2 separate regions of the Homo sapiens genome follow, and region 1 is linked to region 2. The links come from fine-mapping of genetic effects on gene expression. A gene starts in region 2. The other region holds a variant in brackets. All regions are shown on one strand. Distances are from middle to middle.

The links. PIP is the estimated chance that this variant, and not a neighbour inherited with it, causes the effect.
Region 1: its variant is fine-mapped to the expression of GDAP2 in whole blood (TOPMed, PIP 0.93).

Annotation. Positions count from the first base shown.
Region 1 is chr1:118,156,440-118,168,083 of GRCh38, reverse strand. The region is part of intron 1 of SPAG17 (sperm associated antigen 17); the gene reads left to right. Among named protein-coding and RNA genes, the nearest start is that of SPAG17, 23 kb to the left of the region's middle. The variant CG/G (reference allele first, on the strand shown) is at 5,416.
Region 2 is chr1:117,924,656-117,936,299 of GRCh38, reverse strand. It overlaps GDAP2 (ganglioside induced differentiation associated protein 2), which reads left to right and starts at 6,679. Exons shown (of 14, transcript NM_017686.4): 1 at 6,679-6,852. WDR3 (WD repeat domain 3) reads right to left here and starts at 6,561. Exons shown (of 27, transcript NM_006784.3): 1 at 6,518-6,561; 2 at 2,810-3,012; 3 at 1,618-1,827. The coding sequence starts at 2,980. RefSeq lists enhancers at 6,409-6,578, 6,460-6,754.

The DNA.
Region 1 (11,644 bases), 230 kb before region 2:
TAATTGGCTCACAGTTCTGCAGGCTTAAAGGTAGCACAGCAGCTTCTGCTTCTGGGGAGGCCTCAGGAAGCTTCCAGTCATAACAGAGAAGGCAAAGGAGGAGGAAGTGTCTTACATGGCAGGAGCAGGGACAAGAGAGTGAGCGGAGAGATGCCATGCCACACACTTTTAAATGACCACATGTCACGAGAACCCACTCACTATTGTGAGAATAGTACCCAGAGGATGGTTCTAAACCATTCATGAAAAATCCACCCCCATGACCCAGTCACCTCCCACCAGGCCCCACCTCCAACACCGGAGATTACAACTGAGCATGAGATTTGGGTGGGGACATAGAACCAAGCCATATTAATCAGTAAATCCTGTTGACTCTGCCTTTGAAATGTACCTAAAATCTCTACTCCTGTATCTAAAATCTATTCAAGTTAATTATCATCCTCAAATTATTACTTCTGATGTTTAGTTTTACTTTTATTTTAATTATAATGCAATTCAATTTTTTGTGTGAATAGTTTTTAATACACATAGTATATAAATGTAAGATTAAATATTTAGAATGAAAACCCACAGTAAAGAGACTTCAAAATTTGGTTATTTTTCTTAATGTTTCTTTAAGTATCATAAATAGGTAAATATTCTAAATTTCAGGAGATTAAAAGAAAAAATCAGTCACAACTGGAGGCATGTTCTGATATTGTACAAAAATCATTATAACATAAGTAAACAATTTGTATTTCTAAAATGAAAAACAACCTGAGTCTACTTAAAAATTGATTAATTTATTATTGCTAATGATATAAATGTTGGATGGAAATTAAGTTCAAATTCTATGTTGTTAGGAGCTGAACGGCAAAACACTTTTAAAAAAATCAGAGAATTTGTTAAAGCTCATGTTTCTAGTAAAGAAATTTTGCAATCATTAATGAAAGAAAACTTAAAGAACATCATGTATCAGCTTTATGCATTAAAGTTTTTGAAATAAAAATTTTATCAAAGTGTATCAATAAAGTAATTAAAAGACATTTTTGAACATATCATCAGAACTTTTAACATAATGTGTTATGTAGTTAAACATAAGTGAGCATTGTCAGACATGAAATATTTAGTTGAGCCTCAAAAAGTAATATCTACACAGATGTACCATTGCAATGTAGATTTATGGTCCTGACTTTGTCAAAGCATTTGTCTACTGAAATAAGAAAGCAAACTTTTTGGAAAACGTATAGTACAGTGAAATTTTAATCACTATTAATAAAGCTTTAAATATTTTATGTAAAAGTATTTTAATAATATTTAACATGCAAAATTTTAAGATGCTGAAGATGGTAAAAGTTTTTTGTTGATCTGGTGGGGCTAGACAAAATAGCACCTGCAATAGCTCAAACAATATCATTGATTACCAAGAAAAATGGTTTCAATGATAAGTATTTACACAAAAATTGTGCCAAGGTGGTGACATGCAGAAGGTCTGGAGTTTTAGCCTGCAATTTTAGAAAAAAAAATTAGACAAAATGACAAGGAAATAAATCTTCCAGCACTGAACCCTGTGCTTTTAAGTTTTACTGTATAATTTATTTCATGTCTTGTATACAAATAGTTAAATAAGATCCATCTATGGATGATTTCCAGGGATCCCCACTGTTAACATTTCTCTGTCCAGAGAAGTGCCCAATTAACCTTACCTTTGTCTTTAAGCCAGTTTTCTAGCCATGACAAAACATTTCCTATACTTCCATGGTAACTCAATATTTTTCATACAGAAACTTGTAAAATGCTTTCAAAATGTTTGAGTGAATTCTGTTTCCTGGCTTTCCCTTGTCCTCACCCTTCACCATCATTATTCTTTGTGTTGTTCTTAGTGTGTTTTCTGTTAAATATGATTGTAATGTGCCGGTTTGGGTGGCATAGACACTGTAACACTTTCTCCAGCAGCATATATTGAGTAGAAATAGAAAGAAAACCTCCACAATTATACAAACACCAATGAAAAAGCATGTGATCCTAAAAATGTATATGACTTCATGTATGTATATAATATTTGGGTTTTTGTTAAACTAGTTTAAGGTTAGTAATATTAAGTTCAACCACCTCTGTCTTCACATCAAATATTTAGGATGCTAGGTAAAAAGAAAGATTTCGGCCGGGTGCGGTGGCTCACGCCCGTAATCCCAGCACTTTGGGAGGCCGAGGCGGGTGGATCAGGAGGTCAGGAGATTGAGACCATCCTGGCTAACACAGTGAAACCCCGTCTCTACAAAAAATACAAAATTAGCTGGGCATGGTGGCGGGAGCCTGTAGTTCCAGCTACTTGGGAGGCTGAAGCAGGAGAATGGCGTGAACCCGGGAGGCGGAGCTTGCAGTGAGCCGAGATCGCGCCACTGCAGTCCAACCTGGGTGACAGAGCGAGACTCCGTCTCAAAAAAAAAAAAAAAAAAGAAAGTTTTTTTTTTTTTAATTTACACTTGTTGTTACTGTAACTGTCAAGTCAAAGCACCCTCTAAAAAGCCTATTGTTTAACTTGCCATGCATATCTTATGAATTTGGCACCAACCTAAGAAAATATGTGAAAAATGGTTTATTACAGTCATATTTCAACTCTTGATGAAGTAGCGTCGTTGTCTGGGGTAAATACCCGAGGTTCTTTGCCTCATGCCAAGGAAATCAAGGACACAGACACACATGGAGTGAGGTTAAGAGTGGAGGTTTAACTGGTAAAAGAAACAGAAAGGAGAACAGCTCTCTCCTGCAAGAGAGAGGGGCGCCCAAGTGGGACTTCTGGCGCCCTTGCACCAGAAGTTTCGGCATCACTTGGGAACTTGTAAGAGATGAAAATCCTTAGGCCCCAACCTAGATTTACTGAATCAGAAACCCCAGGACGACCGTGATGATTTGTGCTTTAACAAGTGTGAAACTGATCCACACTAGCACTCAAGACATGCTCTAAGGCCGTGATCACAGTGCAAGTATTGCATTACTTGTGTAATACAGACACTAAGTTTTCATAGGCAGGCAGAGGACACTGTTGGGCTGAGACACTTAGGGAAATAGTCACAGGTGAGGCAGGACTTTGACCTGGAAGGAGGGCATTCTGAATAAAAGGACCAGGCTGAGCAAGGCAGAGAGCTGGGAAAACACAGGACGTGTTTGAAATACCACAGGTAACCACTAACAATAAAGTGTGTGCTTTACACAATGGTTATTCCTCAAAACAACCAAAAAAGTAGTATTCCCATTTATGTGAAGAAATTCAGACTCAAGAATTTACACAGAGCAATTTGCCTGAGAGCAGTAAGAGTTTAGAAAAGTAATGAAGATATGGTGTTAGAAATATGTTAGGAAGAGAATGTAAAGGGCTTTGAATTCCACACTTCAGAGTTTGGGCTCTACATGAAGGAAGACACAGAATGATAAAGTTTATGTCTCAGAAAAACTAATAGATTGGAGATGAGAGTAGCTGGAAGCTTAAACAGACCCTATAGATGGTGTTTTCAATAGTTCAGATTCAAAGTGGTTATAGGTAGAACTAGGAGAATAGTGATGAGAATAAAAAGGAAGAGACAGATTCAAAAAGCTCTTGGAAGAGGGCAACTGTGATTGCATATCTGAGAGAATAATGGGGGAGGATTTTAAGTTATGATGACTGGGAGAAATGGCCAACTTCAGACTGACTGACAAATTTAGTAGAATGAACTTAGTTTTTATTGTTTGTGATAGGGAGGTTTTTTTGTTTGATTGTTTTGTTATGTTAGGGTTTGGAGAGATATGAAGAGCTCAGTTTTTAGACATGCTGACTGTGAGATTATGGCAGAACATTAAAGTAGAAATGTTCATCAAGAAGTCAAAAATACGGACTATATAGCTCAGACTGCAAAGTTGGAGATGTAGACTAGGGAATTGTCAGAGCAGAGGCAATAGCATGGGAGTAGTTATAATATCCATAGCTAATATGTGCCAAGAGAACAGAATTCTGTGGGATACCTAAAAGGTCCTTGTTTATGGGACAGAAGAAGAGAAAGAGCCTGATGGTCAGAGAAGGAACAGCCAAAGGAATAAAGACAGAATGAGAACGGGGTGGTGTCATAAGAGTCAAGTTAGAGAGAAGGTCACAAAATGGCAATTCAAGTCCCCAACATACAAACACCTTGGGAGAATAGGCAAGGCAACCATATCTGGTAATGAGGACATAATCAGTGATCTTCCAGAATGCAATTTCAATAGGGTGTATGGTGGTGGTGCTGGTGGTGAGGGAAGAAGTGTAGTGGGAGTGTGGGGATTAAGGACATTATGGCCTTTCAGGATGTGGGAGCTTTTGGTGTAGGTCACATGTTTGGGGGAGTTTGACTATGAAGTAAAAAGGTCATAAGGGAAAATGGTTAGTGGGGAGTCTGGGCTTAGGTGAAGATGGCCATGTATGTGTGAAGTAGGGATAGAGAGGAAAGAGGAGTGGATTGAAAACAAGGCGAGGCGAGGGAGAGATGGGAAAATTGAAGGAACACAGTTAGAGAAGAGGTCATTTGCTCTAGTAAAAAAAAAAAAAAAGGAAGAAGGAATCAGAATGTCTTCTTCAGCCCAACAAAAAGGAGTAAGTTCTTGGGGCCAGTGAAGGATGTTTTCAGATGGAAAATGTAAAAAGGAGAGGAAACCGCGGCAGGAAAACCTTGTGCTTCTCAGGCAGTGGGAATGAGGTCACCACATAGACAGACAGTGGACAAGCAGGACATGGACAAAGAATTCCTTCCACTAATTCTTCAAGTGACCTCTGCTCGTGAGGCTTTTCCTAAGACACAGGGAGAGATGGGTTCTAGGTCAATGCGTATCACCTTGTATTATAAGTGTTTCTATATCTGTTTCCTCTACTAAACTGTTGGTCTTTTGAGAGCAGACACTTTTTTTCAGTACTTTTTTAAATGCAGAAAAGCACGAAAAGATAATGTGGCAAGCACATTTGTACCCTCACAAAAAATTATTTTCTTTTTTGAAATAAACCTGTAAAATTAAAGCTGAAGAACTCTTGTCCTCACCCCCATTCTATGTTCCATTTCTTTCTCTTTCTTCTCAGAAGCAAACACTAATATGGATGGAATACATATCCTCTTAGCCTATGTATCTATTTATCTATATTCATGAATAACATATAGTATTGTTTATTGTATGATTTCACTAATAGTTAATATTTACTGTGTGAGTACTTATGTTGCATGTGCTGCCCTAGAAATAAAGGATGTAAACATAAATAAGACAAGAGCAATTAAAATAAATGAACTAAATCTGTATATCTCAACATGGATAGACATCAAAACATAATGTTGAAGGAAAAAAAACAAATTGCAGAATTAGTTAATACAATATGAAACAATTTGGGCTCCATGTTATTCAATTTTGCATCCTTCATTTCTAGGGCAGCACATGCAA[CG/G]TAGGTACCCACGTAGTAAATATTAATTATTAGTAAATACATTTGGATGAACAATATGATAATAGAAATGAACAATTTGTACAGTGCTTCATAGCTGCGAAATACGTTTACATGTAATCTCTTTTCACCTTTTTTGTGTATTTCTCTTCCCAGGCTGATGCTGTTTAAGGGAAGTGATTATGCCTTATGCCTATTCCCAATGCCATGCCCATTTCAATTTTTGTAACCCCTCAGTAAATATTAGCTGAATGAATGAAGGACTTTCTGCTCTAAGTATTATTATTATTTTGCTAAGGTCCAGGTTGTGAGTACTTAAATGTTTTTCCAAGGCCATGTGGTTGGAATCAGGACTAACAATCAGGTTTTCTGATACTAAATCCAGTGCTCTTTTTATTACACCATTGAAAGAGCTATTGTAAGGACTCTATTAGGGAATCAATATGAGAGGAATAATTATAATGAATTACTGCCCTAACGTATCCAATAAATAGATTCCATGTACCTGTGTAATTGGAGAAAATTAAGAACCATAACCAGATCTAGGGCTTGAAATTTATTCTAATCATTGACTGGGGATACTTTGTCACGTGGTCCTTAAAGGGGTTTTATATTATGAAGGAGATATGTGAATTATGAGGGTGTGTAGGATTACACAAGTGAGGGAATGAGTGGGAAGCAGTTTCACTCAAGTAGAACTGCTCTTGCTAAGGTCAGCAGTGACCTTCTAATTGCCTTTGACTACATACACCATTCCTCCCCTGGCTTTAGTGACACCTTCCCCCCAGTTCTCTTTCACCTGTCCTTCTTGTTTGCCTCCTAAGAAACCCTTCCCTGGCCGGACGCCGTGGCTCACGCCTGTAATCCCAGCACTTTGGGAGGCCGAGGCAGGCAGATCATGAGGTCAGGAGATCGAGACCATCCTGGCTAACACGGTGAAACCCTGTCTCTACTAAAAATACAAAAAATTAGCCAGGTGGGGGCGGGCGCCTGTAGTCCCAGCTACTCAGGAGGCTGAGGCAGGAGAATGGCGTAAACCCGGGAGGCGGAGCTTGCAGTGTGCCGAGATCCTGCCACAGCACTCCAGCCTGGGCGACAGAGCGAGACTACGTCTAAAAAAAAGAAGAAAAAAAACCTTCCCTATTAAAAAAAATGATAATTGCATGAAACTCTAAAGAAAGTTACAAGCATTCTCAGAAGAAAGATCTCAGGAACTACTTCAGACACCTCCACCCTCCACAATTTTATCTTCCCTCCCACTAGGATTGATTGATCTTGATTAATACTTTTACCCTCCACTTGTCTGTTTAAGGTCTGACCTCATTTTCCTTACCCTATGACAGGTCTCCACTGCCTTTTACTTTCCTAGCACAATTGCTATGTCCTGAGCAGCTGGAGAAGTCAGGATTACTGCACAGCTCCAGCTCTGGACACTAATTCCCTCAGTAAAACCCAGTCAGGGCCACTGATGTTAAATAGCCTTTACAAGAAATAGTCTCTAGAAATTTATTTCATGATACAAGCATTGTTTGCTCATTTTCACACTCCCATCTTAGTCATTTTGTGTATCCCTTAGTTTGTTACATCATATACATTTAGTCATACTAATGTAATAAATGCTTGTTGAGCTGCACGACTACTCATTTTTGTTGAATTGAGGTAGGGCACAGATTCCCTGACACTATTCTTGCTCAAGTTACAGTCTCATAGTTTTTCTGACACACCCCTAGGGAGTTATTGGAGAAATTCCCATCATTCCCTGCTAGCATAATACAAACTCAGCTCCCTAGAAGATCTGGCACTGCTCCCTGGATCCTCTTTCTTTAACTCTTCTTTCTCACCCTATCATTTGAAGACCATATTTGTAGACCTAAAAATCAGAACACATGGTCAGACACATCCTGCTTTCAGATATTAGGGATATTATGAGATATGTAATTGGGCTGCCAAAATATTCCCATTGCTTGGACATTTTATTGAATTTGGGGAAGAATAAGATAGAGTTAGTGTAATCAGGGCAATCTTGTGTTTGTAGAAGTAGCCCTGGATATGCCCCACTCAAGATGGATGTAGAAATTAAATTATATCCATGGCTTTGTAGTAAACAAGGGATAAATGAAGACGCTTGTATTCACTGTAAGAAAATAAGTTGTCCATGAGATTGAATTAACCAAGCAACAGCATGGATGGCTCATGAGAATGAGTATTGGTCGGTTATTTTGTTTCTTCTGGGTAGCCCTAGTGCCAAGGCACAACAAATCCATGAAACATACACAAAGCTTAATGTATAAATGACATTTACAATACAGGAAGGAAGATAGAAAAACAAAGCAAAAGGGCTGCAGTAGAGTAAGTAATGAGCTAACATTAAGTCTTAAAAATATATCTTATTTTTTAATGTGGAAGATAGTGATGCAACATTGAAGGAACTCAATCAAGGTCAAAGAAGGTCTCGTGCTTGAGGAAGGAGTTGATGAAAGGTTGTAGCTTTTAATATATGATGATGAAAAGAGATCTCCTTTTAGGGCGGGTGAGTCTCTGATTCCAGTTTTACATTTCTGGAGCAATTAGCAGGACTCCTCTTGGCTTTTCTTGGTCTCCTCTGTTAGAAGAATGTCTCTGATATGTAATATTTGTTTCAAAACCCAAAGAAGCTCGTTTCCTTTTGAGGTTTGCCTTACTTTTTATGTTCTGAAGTTCATTTTGAACCTCAGATTTTGCTCCAAGCCATAAAACTGGTTGGATTGTACTAACATAATGGAGCCGTAATTTCAGCCCACTGTTGGGGGTGGGGAGATAGTTAAGGTGTGTAGTGGCTCTGTGGTTTCTCTGTGGAGTAGAATTCCCTGCAAAGCTTTTCCATGTGGTGTTTTAATAGCTGTCTTAAAACTCTCTGATGCATGGAGCAAAACCGAATTAAGCTCATGTGCTAGATTGGTGGGATGGGCCAAGAACTCTGTGAAAAACGAAAGAAAAACAATCAAACAGCCTAAGCCAGAGGCTACACGGTACAAAGAAGATCCCCAGGACATATCTAAATTCAAAATTCAAAATTACTGCAGCAGTCACCTCTTTTAACCCATTTTTGCAGAACTTTCTACAGGAAATTAGAATATTTCCCTTGCATATATTAATATTTTACATTTATGTGGTACTCAACAAATTTACAAAAGGACCCTAAGTGTATTCATTCTTGGGTCCTGCAATAGTCTTTTGAAAGTTGTATTAATAGATTCATAATTTTAAATGAGAAACTGAGTCACAAAGATAAGCCCAAGGTCATTTGGCTAAGAAACCACAGAGGCAGAATTTGACACTACCCAAACCTCTCTGCATACCTACACCAGAACTTCAATAATTTTAATTAGTCACATTTAATATTTATGAAGACAAGGAAAACCAGCCAGACAGTGTATACATGCACAGTAAAGCTGTTTCTAGACTACTGTGTTTTCATCAGTGAATATAAGCCATGTACAGTGTTGTCTAAACATCAAAGGAATGCGCTCTTTCTCTAATTCAAATTCTGGGTGATTCAGAGGCATGACTCCTTCCAAAGTGCTGAGTTTGGCTGATAAAATGCCACATACTCAGTCAGCCCTCCCATGCTAAGCATGTGTAAAAGTTCTCTTTAGTGTGTGGTTTTGGCTGCTAAGTTCAAGAAACATTTATTGAATGCTTCTATATGCTAGGCACATGGGTGAAGCAGGAAGTTGTCTAGGGGTCTGTTCTGGTATAATTCTAGGGGAGCCTTTTCCACTGGACCAGTCCACAGCCTTAAATACCGCCATTAGCAGGGCATCACTTTGAGTTAGTCCAGGAGTCACTGGGATTCCTTTTTGGAAATGCAGATATTAGAAGAAATACTTCAAAATGGTCCTAGCACTAAAGCCTCTGGGTGTGTATATATATATCTATAATCAAATCAACTCTTAAGACTCTGAGCTGAATAGCAGGTAATACCTAGGAGAAGGAGTTAGTAGATTCTGCTAAGGTCTGTAATGAGCCCTGTGAAGCCAGAATATAGCGGCAGGCCAGGAAACGTGTCTTATTGCACTAAGGCTCCCTATCAAAAATAAACTTCAATTTATTTCTTTTGTTTTTATTTTAAGAACTAGCGCTGCATGACATCCATGTTTTAGACCTTGATGCCCAAAATTGATCAGATTAATATTTGCAGTTCAACCAGCAAACAACTGATTCATTTTCATATTTTTTAAGCCAAGTAAGCAGATCCACATCTCTAATGAAAAGTAGCCTGAGGCTGCTTTCTTCCCCTAGTCCTCTGTATGGCCACCTCAGAGGTGATCATCTTCATAGTCAGCCAGTGCACAAAATCTAAAACTCAGTGTCTTCTCATTTGACTCTAATTGATAATTGGTTTGTTTCTATGGTTGGTGATAGGTTAATGTCTCTGGCAGACTTGCACAGGGCACAAAATGACTTGAAGATTTCTCCTGCCACACTCACATTCTCTTCCATGGCTCTGAAAAAATTATTATACATTCCTTTAGAATTTTAAACATAATATGTTCATGATTCTGGCCCTCTCTTCCAAGGACCCAAAATACTTTAGAAACACGTCAGTTAACAAGTTTATTATTATCCAAGAGAAAATTATTATACAAACTCTTGTTCAAACTCATATTTGCCTTTTTGTGATGCAACTGTTGATATTCTGATTGATTTTTTTTCCCTGGGTCTCCCATAAGTTCTTCACACATGAAGCAGCTTGCATGGACTAGCCATGTTTGTTCTAATGACCAACAAGAGCAGAAGCCCCCCAAAATAATATCTTTAAGGATGGCTAGGATTATTGCTAGGTGCTGTACTGAGAAGGGCTTTCTATAGGTTTTCTCATTCAATCTTCACAACAATCCCAATAGACAGGTACTGTCATTATCTTCATTTATGCATGAGGCACAGAGAAGTTAAGTAACTTGCCCAGGGACACACAGCTGGTTTACTGAGATTCGAATCTGGGCTCAGTGAATCGAACCCAGGCTCCTAATTACTGTGCCACAGTGACCCATGCTTCTTCAAGGGGCCACCACAGTATGAAGGAATCTAGTCATTTGTTGGCAGGGGGTGCTTAGGGATCTCCCAGATCATTGGCCCCATTGTGCAGATGCCTGAGTGGGGAAGTAGGGAAATGGTCAGGAGGAAAGGAGAGCCCTGGAGTGGTTTGCCCCTGCTCCTGTCAGTGGTCTCTATACTTGCCTTGTCACCTGCTTTTCATAGAGCCCATTTTGAAGGATATTACTTAAGGCTAGGTCACACTTGAAGCAACATCAGCAGACTCTTAATTATAGATCCACATAGCGCATTGCTGCAGAGTGTGTCTTTGGGATGGGGGTGGGGTTTGTATGCAATAGAGGGAATAAATCTGCTTTGCCCTCCTTAATATTTTCTCTGAGACAGCTTTGGTCTTCCCAATGAAAATCATAACTAAGTCAGTCTTAGACATGCAGCTCTTCCTGGGATGGCAGCTGTGATATGCTGGTAAATGTTTAGTAACCTTCTCCAAGTGAACATCTCTGATTTGTAGTGTTTGTCATCTCCTTAGTTTGAGTACTCCTACTGTAGCATATTTCAAATTATTAAGGCAATCACACTGAAGAGAGTTGGGAAGAGCCATGAGCAATCGGCTTCAACACATCGCTAAACAGAGGTCAAAAGATTAGGGTGAATCAAGCAGTAGTTGCTGCAGGAGGCAGATGTCAGGTTATAGCCCTCTCCCAGATTATGGAACATGACAGCACACACTGTGTGCTGCTTCAGTCTGCCTCCCTTCTCTCCCCACTCCACCTTGATATTCTTCCACCATAAATCAAACTCATAAGAATTTCTAAGGCACCCTGAAAAAAAAAAAGAAATCACAGAATTTGCAGCCTATAGGTAGTAGGTTGAGAAAGGAAGAGGGAGCAGGCCATCAAGATGCCTTCTAATAGGAGACGGGAGAAAGTAGGAAGGAGAGAGAGGGGAGGAATGGTTTTATAGGCAATGCAGATTTGGATGTGAGTCTTTGGCTTTTTTCTCCTATCTGGAGGAGCATCCTCCTTCCCCTGACATCTGCTTGCATGTCTAAGTCACTCCTGGGAAATATGTCTAAGCAGAGAAATGGCCTCAAGGCCCAATTCCCAAACCATTGTTACTGACCCCTGGTATGGACCATGTTAGATCAGATATAGTGTATTCTCCTCCTAAAGGACTCCAGGGCCATGGACTGAA
Region 2 (11,644 bases):
CTGTATGTATCTCTGATTAGAAAAAACTAAAATGAAAAGCTCTTGGGTTATATGATATGTTTATTTTTAAAGTTTTGGATTCATACTATCAAAATGATCTCCAGGTTGGGTAAATCTATAGAACCAGCAGGGATATGTATGACAAGGCCTGTTCCCCATTCATTTAACTCTATTATTAGTTTTCTCAAAAACTACTACAAATATCATAAGTAAAAAATGTTCAGTCTTAATATTTATTTTAATTTACATTTTTTATGAATACAAATGAGAAATATTTTACATGCTTTATGGTGATTATTGGCCATAAAGTATCTCTTTTGAATTGCCAATTCATGACTTTCTTTTGTCTATCATTCTTAGAGTGTCATCTCTTATTTGACTGTAAGTTATTAATAGATGAATGATACTAATCCTTTCTTTTTATATTGAAAATATTAAATATTTTAACTTTTTCAGTGTCCTCTGACTTGTTTTTAATGTACAAATGTTTCAAGTATTCCAATCTACCAACAGTTTCCTTTTTTAATTTATTTCTTTGCTAATAAAGTCCTTTTCTACCTTGCTATCGGATATTTACTTACATATTTTCTAGTTTACTTTAAAATGCTATTTTTTAATAGTTAAGTCTTTAATCTTTGTTTCATTTTGGTATATAGCATGAGGTAAAGCTTTAATTTAAAAATTTCGCTCAAATAGCCAATTGTCTAAGGACTGTTTTATAAGTAATCTATCATTTTTCTACTTATTAAAATGTCGTCTTTAAAATATACTAATTAGGAATGTAATCATGGATGTGTTTCTGAGATTTCCATTTGGTTGCAATAATCTATTTTGCATTGGTACTTGCATTGAAGTATCAATATGATACTTCTTAAATTATGGGTTTATATGACATTTTAATATCTAAAACCCCTGTTTTATTATTCTTTTCTTCCCAAATTTTAGTGTTTCCAATTCCTTTGCTTTTCCATATTAGGTCAAGTTCTAAGTAACAACTAAAACCTTTAAGATATCTATTTAAATATATCTGTATCTATATAAACATATGTCTAAACATAGCTTTAGCTATATAAATCAATTAGAAAACACTACCATCTTTTCAATACCTTGTCTTCCCATTCAAGAACATGGATTATATCTCTATAAAAGTCTTCTATTCCATTCTTCAGTAAAGTTTCATGGTATTTTTATGTCTGTTACTTAATCTGTTGTGAATGGAATCTTTTATATTTTCTAACTCATGACTTGTGAGATACAGGAAATTCTACTGACTTTACAGAAGTCAATGGCAAATAATTATTTTGTCTCTTCTTTTCCAGTCTTTGTTTTCTTTCCTTATTTTACTGTTTTGCGTAGCACTTCCACAATAAGAGTTATCATGGCTCTCTTCATCTTATTCCTACACTTAAGAGGCTTTTATCAGAAAATATGACAAAATGAACAAAAGGAAACAAAATGAACCACCCAATTCACACCCATCCTCTTCACTCTATCATTATACTACTTTGTATATTGACAGCCCATTGTTTTACCTGACAATTTTTGTCAACAACTTGCTTCAGCATAAGCCTTACATTCCTTTAATAGATCAAAGCCTGGGCTGATTCAAAGGCTCACCTTGGACCCAGATGCCAGTCTGCCTCCTAGCTGATCATACTTCAAGGTAGTGATAGCTGCTTTGTGACCATTGAAGGTCACATTTCCTTCCCCACTCAGGAGACTGAAGATTCGGATCGACCCATCCTCATACCCAACAGCTAAGTGTAGCCCATCTGGGGAGGGGCATAAGCAAGTAACTTCTTGTTTAAGCCCCTGAAGGATAAGAATCTGAAATCATAAAAATTAAAAACAATGTAGAAGAGTTAAGCATGAACTCAAGGGAAAAGCATAGGAATACTCAGGCACAGTAAAATTAAGAGCACCAATAATTCCAAATTACTCTTATGAATAAAAATGAAACTCCACAATCCATTTCAAGTTTTTTAATATAGAAATTAGTATTTGTACTAGGCAATGAAACATTTAAGAAAAGGCTTAATTATTTTCTCCAAAGCCCTACGTTGTTGTAATACATATAAAAACTCCCTAGGCAATAAAATAAATTTAATCCCTTTAATCTAATTCTTAACCCTAGAACAACACTACGTGATTTTCAATAAAGGTTTATAAATTCCTTTAACTGAGACCCATTTTATAAGAAAATAATCTGTGTGGCAACAGAGTACTGCAGTGGTTTTAACCACAAAGGACTCTTGGTGGCAACAAGAATCAAAGTACTAACCTCTTGGGAATCACAAAATGAATGGACAATATCAAAATGCCTATATTTGGTTTGGCAAAAGTGGTAGGCTTAGGGAATTCAGTCACACAAAGTATCAAAGTCTACTTTAACAACACTTGGGCATTATCCATATTAGAAAAAGATTCTGCCAAAATAGACTAACCTTCCTTTTACATGCCTAATATTTTATAACCAGCTATAAGCATAAGTCGAGCTTGAAAAATAGAATTGGTAGAGAAAAAATACATCAGGAATAAATAATTACTGCAAATAATGACCTGTAAATATTCCAACAAATAGACATCTAAGAAATAAGCTCCTATTTCATTGTGGTTTTCAGAATTCAGTGGCGAAGAACACAAAGGAACTTGATGCTTGGCTAGCTAGACCTAAAGGAAAAAGATTTTTCTTCTAAGGGCACAGACACAAAAAAACTCATGATAAATAAATCAGAGCCCCCCCACTTCTACTACCTCTCCATCCTCAAATACCAATAAATCAGTATCAAACTGGTCATTTTAGGCTCACCTTCTCTCCTTTCCTTAAGTCCCAGATGAAAACGTGTTCACAAGCTGGTACTGCCACATAACGTCCTTTCTCACCACGAAGTGTCACAAAGACAATATTACCTTTTTGGCTGCCGATAACGCCAAAGACCGCACTAGCAACATAGCGTAGGTACTGCTTGGTGAGCCCCATGTTGTGATGTCTGATACCACAGGTGAAGCAATCTGTGCATATAAACAAAGAAAACTCAGCTCCTTGGGTGCCTTGGTTCTACTAGGTTAGTAAACACCAACTGTTTTTTTGTTTTTGAGACAGAGTCTCACTCTGTTGCCCAGGCTGGAGTGCAGTGGTGGGATCCTGGCTCACAGCTGACTCCACCTCCTAGGTTCAAGCGATTCTCCTGCCTCAGCCTCCCGAGTAGCTGGGACTACAGGCATGTGCCACCATACCCGGCTAATTTTTTTTTTTTTTTTTTTTTTAGTAGAGATGGGGTTTCACCATATTGGCCAGGCTCGTCTCGAAAGCCTCACCTCAAGTGATCCATCCGCCACGGCCTCCCAAAGTGCTGGGATTACAGGTGTTAGCCACTGCGCCAGAACAACACCAACTGTTGATCATGTCATTAAAAGCATGTAACTTGTGACTTCTTAATCTTTATTTACTCTAAATGAATCATTGACCTAAAATACCTGGACATCATTTTTTATTCAGTGTTGACTCAATATAATCCCTCATTCCTCAAGTTCCAAATTAGTCACGTTGTCATGCCCACCTCATGCATATCTGACATTATAGGCTCAATGCAGCTAAACTGATTTACTTCTGCCCATTAAACCAGCATCAAAGCTTTTACACAGAGATTGGCAGTCTGAGACTGAACATATTTTTCAATGAATATCTATTGAAAACCTACCAATTAGACAGGCACCATTCTAGACACTGGAAATACACTATTAACAAGGCAAAATCCCTAACCTCATGGTACTTACCTTCTTGTACAGTGGTTCTCTAACTCTAGTATACATCCAAATCACCTGGAGGGCTTATGAAAACATTGCTAGAAAACACCATCTCATCTCTTCTCCCAGCACCTGTTTCTGATTTCATAAGTCTGAGGTAGGGCCTAGAATTTTTCATTTCTAACAAGTTTCCAAGTGATGCTGCTATTGCAGTTCTTGGACCACACTTTGAGAACTACTAGTACATGAAAGTCTGTCCTTCATTTCAAAATCAGAGCAGCCACTTACCCTTGGCATAGAAAATGGTTGAGCAACTTGGCACACTATTTTTGGAAAGATGCCATAATTTCTGCACTTTTATTAAATTCACTGAAAATCCATAATCCACTGGTTATTTATAAAAGGGACAAGAGGTGAATGAAGGAGATAACAAATCAGTCCCATCTGTTCTTTACATGGAAGAGTAAAAAGTATCCCCAAAAAACACCCATGCAACTTAAAACACACAAAAATAAAGAAGTTACAGTCTTTTATGAGGAGCTGTTTCTTTTTGCTATTGTTTTTTGTTTCTTTGGTTGGTTGGCTTAACTCTACAGGGTCTTTCTAATTATCAAATGCTGTTTTAGTCTAACACAAAAAAAATTCAATCTCAACTCTCTGATAATATTTTCTGGTAATAATCACTTACTGGCCTCATTGCTTCTCTCACAGGAACCAACATAAAGCCAATTTAAAATCAAGGAAAGATAATATTAACATGGTGATAATGCTCTTAGCCTAGGCCATTTGATTAATTCTTTCCCAATTCCTCTTATTCCTCCAGACTCTGTAGTTGTTCCTTATGTTTGTCTGTCTTTGGCCATCTACCACCTCCTTCTACAGTGTTTTCCTTGGAGAATTCATATAGCATGCCTAGGTCCAGGGACTCCCATCTGTCTATTTCCAGTCCTTTCCACCTACATGAATACTAATTATAGAGTTTCCAATATTTACTGAACATCTCCACTTGAATACCTTATAGTTTCACATTTAACATGTCTATAACCAAGCCTACCTTACTTCTGGTACCCCTCTCTTTTCTTCTGACACTAAGACACAATTTTCCCAGCTCTTCAGGCTCAAAACCATTTAATAACCTTTGAATTATTAATAAAAAAATATTATTATAGCAGCCAAGATTTAGAGAGTGCTTACGCTATAGTAACTGATAACATTATGCAATTGTTTAATTACATACAGCAATTAATGAAACCGAGCTAACATATGCAAAGCACTTAGAAAAGCCTCTAGCACATTGTAAATATGAGCATAAAAAAATTATCCATAAGGACCTGGTATGGTGGCTCATGCCTGTAATGCCAGCACTTTGGGAGGCCAAGGCCTAGGAGTCAAGAGTTTCAGACCAACATAGGCAACACAGCAAGAACCTATCTCTACAAAACATTTTTTAAAAAATTAACCAGGCATGGTGACGCACTCGGGGAGGCTGAGGCAGAAAGATCACTTGAGTCCAGAAGTTCGAGGTTGCAGTGAGCTATGATCACGCCACTGCACTCCAGCCTGGGTGACAGTGAGACTCTGTCTCTAAAAATAAATAAACAAATTCTCCACAATAACACCACAAGGGAAGTCACTCTTCCTATCTCTATTTTACAGACAAGGAACTCAGACCCAGAGATGGCAAATTGCTAACTCAAAGTCATTTAGCAGCTAATTGCCAAAGCCAGATCCCAATCCAGCCAGTCTAACTCCAAAATTTCTGCTTTTAACCACTATGCTAAACTGCTTCTCTTTGCCTCTTTCTCTTTAGTCAATTCCACCTGACTGTTACTCTGAAACAGGATCCCTTTCTCTCCAGCACTTTCAGTTCCAGCTCTTTATCACTGGATTACTGCACTGATTTTCCACCTAGCACCTCCGCCTCCATGTTTTTCACTCTTTTCATTTAAACGTCATAATACTACCGACTAATCTTTTCAAATGAGCTTTCCCTATCCTAAAGCCTTGAAAAGGCTAAATCGTTTGCCAGTTTCCAAAAACTCATCCTATCTAACCCCCGTATTTCTCGAATAAACCTTCCTGTCAGGCTGGCTAGTTTCCTTCCTCGTCCCGCGACCTTGTATTCTTCATATTATTCGTTTTACTTAGAATAACATCCATGTTCTCCTCTACTTCTTTTAACTAATATTATCTTCTGAGGCCCACTTCCTTTCGAGTAAGCCCAATTCTAGCAGCCTTTTTTCATCGCCTCGATATTTAAACTACCTCCCATACAACTTGCACTGTTCACTTTGTTCCACGTGCACAGCTTTCGCCTCCTTTCTGACAGTTCACGACCAAACCTTCTTCCGAGACCCCATGATCTCCGCTTCCTAACCTACAGCCCCCAAAACGATGTTTCCAAGATGCACTGAAGGCCTGGACCGTGGCAACAGACCTGCCACACATTCCTAAACGAGTCTTCGGTCAGGGGAGGGTGACGGAGGGTTCCACACACCGAACACACGGTCATATCATCCTCAGGCCAGCCCGTGCACACGCACGGTCAGGCAGCTCTGCTCAGCACCCGCAACCGCGCCGAGTAGCTGAGGGGCTTCCAAGTACTGCTGTGGGGACGCCCGTAGTTACCTGAGTTCCCCCAGCCCTAGCAACCGGCCTTTAACACGCCCGTCTCGGCTGCTGCTGACATCACGAACGCCTCAGCCAGAATCTGCAAAATCGGAGCCGCAGATAATGCTCTCCGCCCCAACCACGCACCTCCAGGACTCACCTCAGCCTCCACGAGGCTCCCAGCCGATTGGACCCGCCCACAAGACCTGCCCCTTCCGGGTCCGTTCCGGAAGCCTCTTCCGCCAGAGGTTCCCTTTGCCTTCTAGGAGGAAATGACGGAGAAAGCCGGGCGCTGATTGGTGAGCTCTGGCCAGGAGCGGAAGCCGGTGTTTCGCAGCCCAGAGCATTTGCAGCTGGTCACTCCAGTCTCCTGGGACTTTGACTCGCCGTACTCGGCGCGCTCCTGCTGAGGGTCGCCGGAGATGTCGCTCGGCCGCCTTCTACCAGGAGCCTGATCCGTGCCGCCCGCCGCCCGGATGGGACCACCAGAGTGCTGTGAGAGGAGGGACTGAGGCCGGGAGGGAAGGCGGGGCGGAGAGGGCCGGGGGCGCGGTCCGAGGCGCTCGGGACTCGGCCCTGGTCAGGATTGCAGGCTGAGGGTTAGTTCTGTCACTTCTCTTGAAGAACGAGCCTGGCGCCACTTCCTCGCATGTTGGTTAGGTTCTTTCCCGAGGCGTTGTCGGGGACGCCGTCTCTACGAGAAGTGAAAGGGTGGGCAGTCGGCGGGCACTAGGAACAGTGGTGCTGTAGCCAAGGAGGCGGGCGCCCTAGGGTGCAGGTGAAATGGGGCAGGCGGGAGCTCTTGCTGGTTGTAGTCCCAAAGACAAGTCCGTGTTGCCGTTCCTGTGGACTGGACATTCTACGGAACCGAGAGCACCTCGGGTGAGGGGTGGGTAGACGCTGAGCCCAGGATGGTGCGTTGTCTAGGTTCCCGCAATCCCTGGAGTGACACTGGCCTGGCTTTGTGTTTCCGCTCTCTGGCCGCTTGAGGGGGAAGTGACCAAGGCTGACTCCTCCTTGTTTGCTCACTGAGACTTAAGTGCTCTTTCACCAAGTGGGAATTAGCTTTTCTCTCTTGCATTTCTGCTACTTTTATTCTTGAGCTGCATAGAAGTGTTTAGAAATGAGTTCTGATGTCTAGAGCTGTGCAAAATTAAAGCTAACATAGCTGTACAAAAGAAGATCCTGCCGGCGCTTCTTGAACAAGGTATCTGCAGCCAGCCTAGAAATTAGACTTTTGTCTACATTATCTGATTTTCTTTAGAGTTTCCTGAGCTTAATGCATGTTCAGCTAATCTTCCATATTCAAGAAAATTGCAATAGCAAAGAATGCGTATGATGAGACTGTGGACAGCTGTAGCAGCATAGGAGTTTTGAAACAAGATTGCTGTGTATTGGATAAATGAGAAGGGAAGAAATTGTGGCCACAAACTATTATTTTAATAAGCTTGGTGGGAAAGGGAGCATTTGAGTGGGTATGTATGGTTAATATCCCTGACAGGTGCTGTGCATTATATTATTATGGGGAGAAGTGTGTGCTTCAATGGAAAACTACATAGTTTAGATTCTATCTTAACACCCCTTGGAATAACTAATTCTAAAAAAGCTATTTTTCAGTTACGTAAACTAGGTAAGTGACATCAATGCTAAATAATTATTGTCAAGACATGCGAATTCTCTCAGAGATTCAGTGGAAGTTTTGCCTCCTTTTGCACATTTATTTCAATATTCCTGCTCTAAGGTGTCTAATTCTGGGATTTTCTTTATCTTCTCTGCCTGGTTCCATTTTGAGTTAAATAAAATCTTGAACACGGGTTTGGTTTTATATTTGAATGAGTCATGATTTTACCTTTTCTTAAAAAACTATCTTAATATTATTAAATATTATGGGATGGGACAACCACAGATGGAAAAAAATGATTTTAATAAGAGTTGGTATCAGAGCAACTGTGAGTGGTAAGGTAATGCATCTTACAAAATTCCTTATACAATGTTTCAAGGATGTAACTCTACTTCCTTATTTAAGTTTCAAAATGCCTAATATATCAATATTTACAATTAAAACATAGTGCAGTTCATTTAATATGAAGGGGTACTACTAATTTACTGTTAGGATATGTTCTTTGGGTGCTTTTGAATTATGATGTTAAATTTGACCCAAGCCATTGACAAGCTTAGGAATGTTCTTGTTATACTGTATTTATTGTTGACATATTTGACTACTTCAGTTAGTCTTCCAATCTGAAAATCTTTTTTAAAAAATGTCTTTCTGATGGCATAAAATGATTCTTAAGTATGGTGTTGGATGGTGGCATAAAATGATTCTTAAGTATGGTATGCACACATATCCTCATGTACTCTGAACTGTTAAATATTGAAATACAAAGTCATAAAGAATGGTAAACCCGGTAATTAATGGCGGTCAAGTGCATGCACCAGCTCTCTTTGTACTGTTGTTATCCAGGCTGGTCTGATCAATGTAAGCATTTTGAAAGACAGGTAAACAGGTTAAAAGTTACCATTTTTCTCTCTTAAATGATATCATTTTCTTTCTATCCAGAAAAAAAGTTTTTTTTGAGATGGTGATCCAAGGTATTATGCCCAATTTTGCCCAGTTTTGAACAATAAAATCTGATCTCTCTAGCCAATCCAATTATTCATATTAAGCAGTATTTAAAGGACTTCTTAAACTAAAAGATGACAGGATTTGAGGAAAAAAAAAACAAGTTACAGTGTAATGAGAGCTGTTTACACTGCACCATTTGAATTATAAAAGATACATAGTGGGTTATCTTTGTCTTTAGGTCCTCTTCACTAAAGTACTGAAGATCATATGGATATGGAAATAGATTTGATTCATTATGGAATCTTCTGTTTGTCCCATGTAGACTTTTTGATCCTTGGAAATTAATGTCTTGCTTCAAGAGCCTTTTTTTTTTTAACTAGGGCTTAGTGTTTGTTTATGAACTTATTAAAAGTACAGAGCTGATCAACTGATTTTCAGTGGACAGTCTTGCTCTCCTTTAATGTTAGCAAAAATTCTGGCTGTGGCTATAGATTACTGGGTGTAGGAGCCTTCTCCTCCTCCCTTTGTCACTTAAGCAATCTGTTTGCATTCTATCACTGAGATTCTAATTCAAATTTATTTACAAATCTACTTGTATGAGCTCATATACAAATATTCTGGGGAGTGAAAGGATCTGTATCTTTCATGTGATTCTCAAAGGGGCCTGTGACCTTGAGAATGTTAAAAACCACTGTTCTCTCAGGGATCAGGTTTTTCTGCCTAGCTTGGGTTTGTGGCTCCATTTACTGTATGTATTACTAAGGTGTATATGTGTTTAGGGGAAGGAGAGATTCAAACCTCTTTTTGGTGAGAAACATCAATTCTGTTTAGAGATGGAGTTGAAAAAGAATTCAACCTCTGTTAAATACTGTGACACTTCATAAAATGCCATTAAATTTTGTCCTACAATAAGAGCTATGAGCATTACTTTTACTTATTTAACATCCAATATCTTGTGGGTCACAATTACTTAAAAGCTAGGAAAAGGATCCAACAAACTCTACTGACCAGGTATGATCAGGGATATAGGAGAACCACCAGGGTATAATGTCAAAGAAGATAATAGAGTTTTGAGGAGGAAATGATCAGTAATAAATGTGGATAAAATTGGATTAATTCTTGGATTTGACATTTGGGAAGTTATTGTTGAATAGAGTAGTTTTCGTATAGCTGTAGAGCGGAAGCAAAACTGCAGTAGGTTGGGCAAATGTACGAAGAGGAAGTAGAGCTACAAAACAAATTACTCTTAAAAAGTCAAGTGGTAAAAAGGAGTTTAGTATTCTGAAGAAGAAATGAAGTAGAAGAAATAAAGGAGGAAAACCTTTTTGAGAACAGGAGGATTGAGAGGAAGGAAAAAGCCAAGATGTAATTGTAAAAGGAGAATTTATGTTGTAACACTCTCTTAAGAGGAGAAATGGTCAAATGAAGGAAATTGATTAAATTAAAGTGATTTGGTGGGCTTAAACGTGTGGAATATACCCTCAAATCGTCACTTGGAAGTTGGAAACAGTGAATGATTTTGAGTTGGAGGGAAGTTAAGGTAATTGTTCTCCTATGCAGTTTTGACACCAGTTATCTCATTGAATGCTCACAATAATCTTAGGAGAATTACCCTTATTTTAGAAATTAAAAAACTGGTTCAGAGTCAAAGATAACAAAACTATTAGATGATGGTCCTGGATCCAAACTCAGACCCTATGATAACAGAGTCCAAATTCTCACATCGAACCATACTGTCTCTGCCTCACTGTGTAATTGTGTGTGGAAATATTTACCTTAAAATACTAAAGAAACTGGATTCAAAATTGTACCAGTATGATTTTACCTATCACAGAAAAAGGTAGTAACTACATCAAAAGTTGAGGAATTTTTTCCTCCCCCTTAATTTTGGTTTCTTTTCCTTCTTTTTGTTTTGTTTCTTTTTTGAGATAGGGTTTTGCTCTGTCACCGTGCTGGAGTGCAGTGGTGTGATCTCAGCTCACTGCAATCTCTGCCTCCTGGGCTCAAGCAATCCTCCTACCTCAGCCACCTGAGTAGCTGGGACTACAGATGCATGCCACCACACCTGGCTAGTTTTTTGTATTCTTGTAGAAATGGGGTCTCACTATGTTGCCCAAGCTGGTCTTGAACTCCTGGGCTCAAGTGATCTCCCCGCCTCAGCCTCCCAAACTGCTGGGATTACAGGTGTGAGCCACTGCGTCCAACCGATTTGGTATTTTTCAAATGTTCTGTAAGCATGTATTACTTAGAGTCAGAAAGAAAAGTTATCTTAAAAAAGCAATTTTGTCCTGAAAGTTGGCATTCAAGTTTACAAACTGAAAACTGTGTTTGTGTTTAATGGATTTGTTTTTAGATTATAGCTAAGAGCTTTTTTATGACAATGACTCATTGTCATAAAAAATCTGCAGGTAATTTTTTGAAATTATGAACTTTTGTCAAGCGTCATTCCATTGAGCATGAGGCAATTTAACCATGATAGAAGAGTATATAGTCTTCATTTGTCCTCTGTTCAGCTTGTCTATTTCAAGTCTGAATACTTATGAACAGATCAACAAAACTTGTGGAAAGACCAATTTGATGGACTAAACACCAACTTTTAGGTAAAATTAATTTCTTTATTTCAAAGTAATTTCAAAGGTGTATTTAGTGTCAAATAAGAATAGTCTTCTCATACAAATTTATCATTGTTTAACCTACAAGGCCTTTCTGAAATTGTTATAT